2 linked regions of the Homo sapiens genome follow. The protein of the gene in region 2 purifies or fractionates together with the protein of the main gene of each other region. This does not show direct contact. Each region holds a gene or a part of one and is shown on either strand. Other genes may lie near its edges. The genes, in order: TMEM132E and ATP11A.

What was found.
Region 1: the proteins of ATP11A (region 2) and TMEM132E fractionate together in Homo sapiens (co-fractionation; one large-scale study listed by BioGRID). This does not show direct contact.

What each region holds. Positions count from the first base shown.
Region 1 is NC_000017.11:34,578,223-34,582,669, forward strand, and holds the start of TMEM132E (transmembrane protein 132E precursor), read left to right. Parts: upstream 1-1,359; 5' UTR 1,360-2,854; coding exon 2,855-2,921; intron 2,922-4,447. UniProt on the Homo sapiens protein: Required for normal inner ear hair cell function and hearing.
Region 2 is NC_000013.11:112,688,578-112,693,075, forward strand, and holds the start of ATP11A (phospholipid-transporting ATPase IH), read left to right. Parts: upstream 1-1,460; 5' UTR 1,461-1,839; coding exon 1,840-1,878; intron 1,879-4,498. UniProt on the Homo sapiens protein: Catalytic component of a P4-ATPase flippase complex which catalyzes the hydrolysis of ATP coupled to the transport of aminophospholipids, phosphatidylserines (PS) and phosphatidylethanolamines (PE), from the outer to the inner leaflet of the plasma membrane.

The sequences.
Region 1 (4,447 bases), on a different chromosome or scaffold from region 2:
CCTCCCCCCAGCTCCAGACAGATGTAGGGGTGGGGGAAGGGCCAGAGCAGCCCTCTACAGGCCCCAGTACCAAGCGAGGCAGCAACAGCCAGCAGCCAGGGAGGAGGAAGCCTTCCATGAAAAATGCAAGCACATTTTCCAAAAACAAAATGTCACCGTCCTAGATGAAAGGAAACTCTCAGGGTCAAGAGGGCTAGCATGGAGTCAGGCAGATGGAGGGCACGGTTTGAGTGCCCCAGCTGGCTTTGCTCTGACCTGGCCCCACACTCTCACTCCAGTTGAGTGCAGAGGTATGGAAGGGTGACCCTCAAGATCCATATCCTCCCCAGTAGGGATATGTCCATGGGATTGAAGACCCTGTCCCTCCAGAGCAGGGTAGGATTGAAATTCACCCTCTGGGGATTGGAGTTGATACCCAACGAAGCTATAAAATCATTGCCATGGATCCGATGCCTGGTTGACAGATGAGGTGTGAAGGTTGACTTGCCGGGTCTGATCTAGGTTGCACTCTAATGGAAAGGGCCTGATGGTGGGAACAGATATCACTCCAGCCACCCCTCCCGCTAGTCAGCAGGTGCCTGGGTGAGTATGCAAGAGGGGCAGTTCCCCACCCCCACCTCATGCCTCTTTAAAGGCTTGCTAAACAACCTGTAGGAAAGCACTGTCCCCTCCTCTTCTCCGTCTTCCTTCCCCAGCAACAGAATAAATAGGTTTCCCACAGCTGCGCCCCGGACCCATCCCGCACGAAGCTGAGCCCCAGAGCCCCCGCGGCCCGAGAGGAGCTGGGCACAGCAGCGAGGCTGATTCCCAGCCAGTGCCCAGCGAACTCTGGGGGTGGGGGTAGGGTGCCCCCTACCCGCGCCTCTGGAAGAGCGGCTGCAAAACACCTCCGGCGCCCGGTGGGGAGCGTGCATCCTTTGAAAAGGGACATCAGTGACTGCGGTGGCGTCTACCCTGGAGAAACGCAGCTGAGGGAGGTGGAGGCTCCTCCCGCCGCAGCTGGCCGGCCCCATTCGGGTCCCAGCGCTAGCCGGCGTTGGGAAGGAAAAATCAAACATAAAATAGGGGCGAGCGGAATCGCGAGGTCGGCCCTTGGCCCGAGTCTCATTAAGGAGCCGCGCGCGCCGCCAGGCTAGGAATGCGGAATGGACACGTGGACAGAGGAGGGGGAGCTAGGAGTCGGGGAGTCTCCGTGGCGCGCGAGCTGTGGGCCGCGCGCTCGGGGGCCACGTGACCACGGGGAATCTGGGAGGGGTGGGAGTGAGCGCGCCAAGCTCGGCGCCCGCTTCTGCCCGGGTGGGCGCTGAATCCCGGACGGAGGAGGAGGGCGGGCGAGCGCGAGTGTGTGTGTCTCTCTCGAGTCATTTACGGCGGAGCAGCCGGCGCGAGCGCCGAGGAGGCGGCGACGGCGGCGGCGGCTGCTTCGTGCAACTGTGGCTTCCCCCACCTCCTCTTCCTTTTTGCTCCTCGATTCTTCTTCTTCCCCCACACACGTCCATGGGGAGCCGGCTCCCCTGCCAGCACCTCCTCTCCTCTCGGCCCCGTAGGCACCAGCTGCCGCTTCCCTGGCCGCAAGCTGCGCAGGTGCCGGCTGCCCTGGCCCCTGGCGCCGCGCCCGCGTCTCACCGCCCGCAGCCCGGACTGGCGCGGCGATCCGCTCGCCCAAACTGACTCGGAGGGAGCGGGAGCCGATGCCCGGCAGCATCGAGACAGCGGGCGAACGGGCGTCCGGGGACAGGGTGGGGGCGGCGGGGAGGAGGCGTCGGAGACTCTGAACCCCAGAAAAGTTCAAGGTTTGTGCAGGTTCCCCCAGGGAAGGCGAGGAGCGAGGCGGGGCAGCGCGCCTCTCTGCCGAGACAGCGAGACCTTAGCGGGGTGGCCCGGAGCTGCCGTGAGCTGCAGGAGCCCCTCTGCATCTTACAGCGTTTATGGTCATCAAGCTGGAGTCGACGTCCTGGGCAGGAAGGGCTCGGGGCAGGGCGCATTAGCCGGCTTTCTCGCTCCCTCGCTTCTCCAAGCCCCATCTACATGGGGCAGCCCGTTCTGGCCGCGCCACCCTTGCCCCAGCCGCCGAGCGGCTGCCTGGGCAGGAGGCGCTGAGCCGGCCTGTGTGGAGCCTGGGCCCTGATCCAGACTGGAGAAAGCGCGCTGGAGCGGAGGAGCGAGCCTTGCGAGGGGACAAACATCTGGCCGCCCGCCTCGGGCATCCGGTCTGGGCGTCGCCTAGGGTGGTGGCGACCGGCGTCGCCAGTTTCAGCACCGCACGGAAACTTTTCCTTCTCCAGATGGATTAAAGTTGTCTGGATTTTCTCTTTCTTTGAGAAAGACAGCATTCATTTGCACCTGACCTGGGATTTTTATGCTGGGCTGCTGCAGGGGCTTGGAGGAAGAAAGCGGCGCTATCCATGTGCGGTTACTACCGAAACCGAGGAAACTGGGGATTGCGTTGGAAGTCGGCACCCTCGAGTGAGTTCGGATTCGAGCTGGGCCGTGAGGCCGGGAGATTCAGCACTGGGCTCTAGGTAGCCCCCGGGACGCCCGCGGCCACCGGGCTCCGGACTGCACGTGCAGCTCCCCCCGCGCCTCGCAGATCCTGCAGGGGGCACCAGCTGGGGGAGGTGGAGGCTCCTCCCGCCCGGAGCTGCGCCCCCACCGGCTCCGAGGGTGTAGCCGCCAGCGCCTGGGACGCCCCCTCCCCGCAAAGTGTCCCCGAATTGCACTCTCTGGTCCCGGAGCTGCATCTGAGACAGCCGGGCGCCACGGCAGCCCTGAGTTGGATGTGACCAAGCCCAGCCTGGGGCCAAGTCGTCGTCGACTGTTGCTCTCTCGGACCCCTCCCGCCCCCGCCTCGGCCATGGCCCCGGGGATGTCGGGCCGCGGCGGCGCCGCCCTGCTCTGCCTCTCAGCGCTACTCGCCCACGGTAAGTGTCGCGGCGCGGACTGGGGGTGAGGATGCGGCAGGCGCCACTGGAGGGGGTACGGGGAAGACTGGGGAGAGGAGCACCCACACCCCCTGGACTCGCAGCCGCCACTCCGGGTTTGGCGTCTCTGGCTGCAGCTCGAGTTACCGCCAGCCCCCGAGCCCTCCGGCGAGCTCAGCTGAGGGGACCGAGCCCGGCGCCAGAAAAGGGTGGGGGGAGGGTGTCGCTCCAGTCCTCTCCTGGTTATAAAGAAGGGTTCGAACCCGAAGGTCTGGGGTCGTGTCCGCCCACGGAAATCTAGAGGGATCCGAGGGATCCTCCGGATCGCGTCCAGGCCGCCCCCCGCCCCCGTCTCTCCCTGCAGCCGGCCGGGCTGGGGGCTGTTGGGATCCGCCGGGATCGCGTCTTTCCTCGCCCCGGGCGCGCAGGCCGGTGCGGGGCCGCGCCGCCCGTCGCCTCGCTTCCTGCGGCGGTCCTCGGGAAGGGAAGTGGACTGACTCCGGGCCGGGGAGCCGCCGCGGCTCGCACGCCCGCGGTCCTGTGAGCTGCATCTAAATGGCCGGCTTAGGCGAGCCCGGAGGGCGGGGGTCTGGGCACCCGCACAGGCCGGGGCGGTGGGCCGCGGGCCGCGCGCGGAGGGAGCGGGCTCCGCGCTCTCGCATTCTGCAATCTGTTGCGTCTGCTCCCCAGGCTCGCCCCGGGCTCCGCGGTAAAGGGGGTGGGAGAAGGAGGGATTGAGGTTGGCGCGCTTTGGCGGTGGGACAGCGGGCATACGGGTGGGGGGCAGCGGGTTTTTGAACAGCCCCCAAGAATGGGAAATCAGACCAGAGGGAAGGAGGCTGCAGCGGGCCTTCCGCAAGCTGGAGACGCTCCAGGAGGCGAGGGGAGCAGACCGAGGTGGGAGGGAGAGAGCTCCGAAAGGAGAGTGGAGAAGCGGGGCCCTCTGCTCCCTCCTAACGTGAAACCAGCCGACCTGGGATACATTTTCTTAACCAGCAAGGCGTGGCGGGGTTGGGGGGCGGGGGTGTTTCGATGCTCCACGCTGAGGGGTGAGCCTCAGGCAGAATGGAGGGCGCTTAGATGGAGGGGGCAGTGGGCTCTCCGCATTGGTGGAGCGCCCTCGGTGTGCCGGGCTCAGCTCTTGCCCAGATCTGCCCAGTCCCTAAGAGCCTGCTCAAGCTCGCCAGGAGTGTGCCCAAGGTCTCTAACCAGCGGCCTCTTTCACCCTGACCAAAGCGCATTCTCAAGGTTGAGAGAATAAGAAAAAGAGGGGCTCTCGGAATCGTAGGGTCCTGGGGCTAGGAGGGGGGCGGGGAGCAGGCAGACCTCCCTCTATGGGTGGCTTGGTTATTCCCGGCTGAGGTAACACCAGGGGGGGTTGTTTTGCGTTCAGTTCACCAGAGACAGCTAACCTCAGTTCTCTATGGGAGGAATAGGCAGAGCAGCGAGCCAGCAGGGGGGCGAGGGTGAGGTGGGGCGAAGTGGGAGCATAGCGGGGAACCAGAAATCTCTAGGCTCTGTGTGCA
Region 2 (4,498 bases):
GACCAGCAACAATGGCAGACCGACAACATGTCTCACCCTAAGAGGCTTGGGGGCGGGGAGAAGTTCTGTTCGTAGAGCCTAGAGGAGTTGTGCAATGGAAAGGGCACCCAGGAAGAATCGTAGCCACAGAGTGAAACCAACACTGGTGGGTGTGGGGCCAGGCCAGGAAGGAGAGGGGAAGAGGCCCCTGCCTCCCTCCTACCCGGTCTGCAGCAGGTTGTCCCTGTGGGTGAAGATCCACTGAGGGGGACCGCCAGCTTCCTGAGCACAGGGCAGGCCAGAGCAGGACAGGCTGGGATGGAAAATGAAGAATCAGTGCTTTAGCCGACAACAAATGGGAGCCGTTTACTGTTTAGTCACTATGATTAGTGTTCACTAGTACTCATTTCTCTTCGTCTAAAAAGTGGCCAACACCATCTCTTTTCCACAAGCACTCGGGAGAACATTCATATTCAATTGCCTTCCTAAGACCCAGACGGGGCAGCGCTCTCCACAGGCCACCAAAAGGTGTTGCCTGTTTGGTTTCATCAGTGATTATCTGTGGCAGCAAGACAGGAAGTTGGAAATCAAGTACCTCAATTAAGTCAAGGCTGACCGTGGAATTAGAGAACAAGTGTTTGTTACCCCGGCCAGGTCACCCTAGGGAAAACAGGCATTCTCCGGGATTGAAATGGTGGTGTTTGTGTGGTAAATAGTTCTCAGTCCAGTTCAAAGCCAGCAGCATTAAGGACACGCCACCGCCACCGGGAGCTGGAGACCAGGCGAAGCTGAGCTCCTCTGTGGTTCACCAACCCCTCAGGCCGCCTAAGTGTCTTCTGCTGTCGCAGCTTTGGGGACAGAGGGGTTTCGGAAACAGGGGCCTCTTGTCTGCACCCTCCCCTCCCACTGACAGGCTGGCAGCCCAGGGCAGCCACCTGAGGAGCGTCCCTGTGTCTCTCCATCTGCAGAGCAGGAAAAGCCTGCGGGTCGGTGGCGCCACGCTGGGGCGAGACCCAGCTTCGGCTCAGGAGATCTCCCACCCAGCCGGACTCCCGCTCTCTGCCCGCGGCCCCCTCCCACACTCCCACCTCGCCCCGCGATCTCACTGCCCCATCGAGGCTTCCGGGCGGAGGAGAAAAGTTTTCCGGCAGGAACCCGGGAAGGAAGCCCTGGGACCCTGGCTGAAACTCCGGGTTTCCCCAGTGCCGAGTCCCTTCCCCGCCGCGCCCAGCGCCTGCGCCCCGGGAGGCGGAAGCAACAGGGGGGTTCCTCCCCGCGGCCTCTGACCTCTGCCCTCTGCCCTCTGCCCCCAGGGTCTGGGGCCCGGGCGGAGGCGCGAGGGGGCAGGGCCGGCGCGCGGGTGCGAGCGCGGGTGTGGGCGCGGGGCCGGCGGGGGCTGCGGCCGCGGGGCGCATGCTCACTTGCGCCGGTGACGTGCGCGCCCGGAGCAGGGGCAGGAGCCAGCGGGGCCCGGAGGCTCCAGAGGGCGGCGGGCAGGGGAGGAGGAGACTCGGGAGGAGCAGAGCGCAGGCTCCGCCGCGGCCGGGGTGCTCCAGCCGAGCCCAACCGAGCGGGCGGACCGACGGGGAGAGAGAAGGCGCCAGAGCGCGCGCGCGCGGCCCCGAGCAGCAGCCTTGCCGCCAGTGGAGCAGCTGCCGACGCGCGGGGCCGCGGACCCAGCATTCGCCGGCCGGGCCGGGCATGAGCGCGGAGGGGCCGCGGCCGCCCCCTGCACCGCCCGGCGCGCCGAGGCCGTGACCGGAGCGGGGGGCGCGGCCGCACTAGTACCCCGGAGCCCATGGGCGCGCCGAGCCGGGCGCGGGGGCGCTGAACGGCGGAGCGGGAGCGGCCGGAGGAGCCATGGACTGCAGCCTCGTGCGGACGCTCGTGCACAGATACGTGAGTGCTCCCGGCGCGGGCTGGGGGACCCGGGGACCAGACAGACGCGGGCCGGCCCCGCAGCCCGGACCCTGTGGCCGGTCCAGCCCCGGGGTCCCGGGAGGTCTCCGATGTCTGGGACTCGGACCGCCCCCGGGGACGAGCGGGATGCTGGGGAGGGGCCTCGGAGTTGACACCCTGGGGCTTCCGACGGGGTCTAGGTGGGCACAGCGCGGGGCCCCAGCCCCGGGCGGCCACCTGCTCCCTGGCCGCGGCCGCCTGGCGCCCCCTTCCCGCCCGCAGCGCCCTGGGGGTCCCTCGGAGAGGCTGGCTGGGGTTCGAGCTGTCCCGGCGGACCGGGCGCCCGGAGGGAGCCAACTTCGACCCCGCCGGGGCCCGGGTCTGGGGAGGAACCTTCAGATGCGGCTTCCGCGCAGCCGTGTCTGTAAGATTAAGGGATTGGGAGGAAGCGTTACACTTCTGCAGAAAAAGGTAGCAATTGTGTTTGTTCTTTAACACCCCTGGGGGATTCAGAAGCGGAGTTTGGAATCTTTTTATTTTTTACCTTAAAGTAACCAATTAGATCAGAAGTCCGGGGTCTTCTTGGGTTCCTCTGGAATTTGCCCCTTCAGTGATAAGCAAGTGAAGAGCTCAGGAGGGAAGACTCGGAAGGGGAAAAGTTGATTTTGTTTTACACCAGAGGAGGGGAAACCGGAATCCCTGGCGTTAGGTGTAAAAAGGGGTGTGTGGCCGGGCGCGGTGGCTCACGCCTGTAATCCCAGCACTTTTGGAGGCCGAGGCGGGCGGATCACGAGGTCAGGAGTTTGAGACCAGCCGGACCGACATGGTGAAACCCCGTCTCTGCTAAAAAATACGAAAATTAGCCGGGCGTGGTGGTAGGCGCCTGGGATCCCAGCTACTCAGGAGGCTGAGGCAGGAGAATCGCTTGAACCCGGGAGGCGGTGGTTGCAATGAGCCGAGATCGAGCCACTGCACTCCAACCTGGGTGACAGAGCGAGACTCTGTATCAAAAAAAAAAAAAAAAAAGGGTGTGTGTGTGTGTGTGTGTGTGTAGGAGAGGAAGAAAACTGTCCCAAGCACAGCGTTTCCTGCCACTGTCTTGCACAAGAGGCTTCATTGTTCCATAGAGGCTGGCGGTCACTGGTCAATCACAGGTTCGAGAAGTCGCATGCACCGGGTTTGATACTAGAGAGGGCAGTATTATGGGAACTTTGTTCTTTCCCGGCATAGGAATTACCTCAGGCAGCCTTTCATATTTATGAGCCTTCTTTAAATAGGAGACCTTGGCCAAAGATAGATAGGTTTCTTTTCAGTGGGGGATGCCAGATCAATGCTTTCCCCCGGATTTATTTATTAACCAAAAACCTCGGAGAGTCAAGGAGACTTGAGTGCACCTTACATCGTTTCCTGATCTCGGGGAAGCCTTAGGAAGGTCAGCCTGACTTACTTAAGTGGAGAGAACTCACCCCTGGTGATTCTGATGATTCCGATGCTAGATCTTGAAAGGCTTGGCTCCAGGAGCCTTGTGTTACTCCCTCACTGGTGCTCGAGCCCCCAGTTCAAATCCTAATGTGAGTGGTAAACCTGTGTTTCACTGTGGTAACGTTATAGAAGACCCAATCACAGTGACTATAGGTAACCTGCAGTGTAAGAGAAATGCTTTATTGGGCGGAAGCTTCTGTTCTCAGTTGTGTCGCTCAGAAGTGTGGGTCCCTAGACACCTTATTTTCCTGCTTTGTTTCCTTCGAGCGAAATGGAAGAGGGAAGGGACTAACACTCACTTTGCCCGCGGTGTTCCCAGTTCATTCCGTTCCCTTCTAACACTCAGTGTTAAAAAGGAGGGTCACGTTGTGGGGCTAATGTGCAGCCTCTTTCCATAGAAATGAGAGATGGATGGGCCAGCCCGGCTCACCCTTTGGAGAATCCCCCCTTCCCAGCCGGTTTCTGACCCCTTCATCTTGGGAGGGGGACAGACAGACGTCCAATTTTGATGCTTGACTCCCTTTCTCCAGGCCTTCAGCTGTTTTCTGTTATATAGATCTATATAAGTGTTTGCGTAGCTTGCATTTTTAATTCCCCTTTGCTGTATTATTACGCTTATGGCATCACATTTTCTTTTAATCTAAGCGGTAAATATTCTTTAGTGAACTTTTCCAGCATATACATTATTGGATAACGTCTCGGGAATACGAGTTGTGGGATAATATTATTTCTGTTTTTCTCATTCCACCTGTGTTTTTTGCAGTGTATTCATCTGGCTACCTCACCCATATTTACACACAGAGCCATTCATCTCTATCATTTTAAGTTCATGTCTATGGTATTAAACTAATTTGACTTTTTCCAGAAACAGTCATGATCTGTTTTCTTGTAATTGCGTTATCGTCCACTATGTAGGACTAAATTATATTTCCTTTTGCTACAGAAAAAAGAGTCTGGGATTGAATACTCATATTTCCTCATGGTTTCCTTATGTGACTTACTTTATTAAAAAGGATAGATAAATAGACCCTGTTCCTTCTTGGTGTTCACATAGTCAGAATTCCTGGGACAAAGAAAGCTTTCCAGCTCCTTCTGATGTGTGAGGGTGGCTAAAAGATAAAGAAGTCCTTGGAAAACA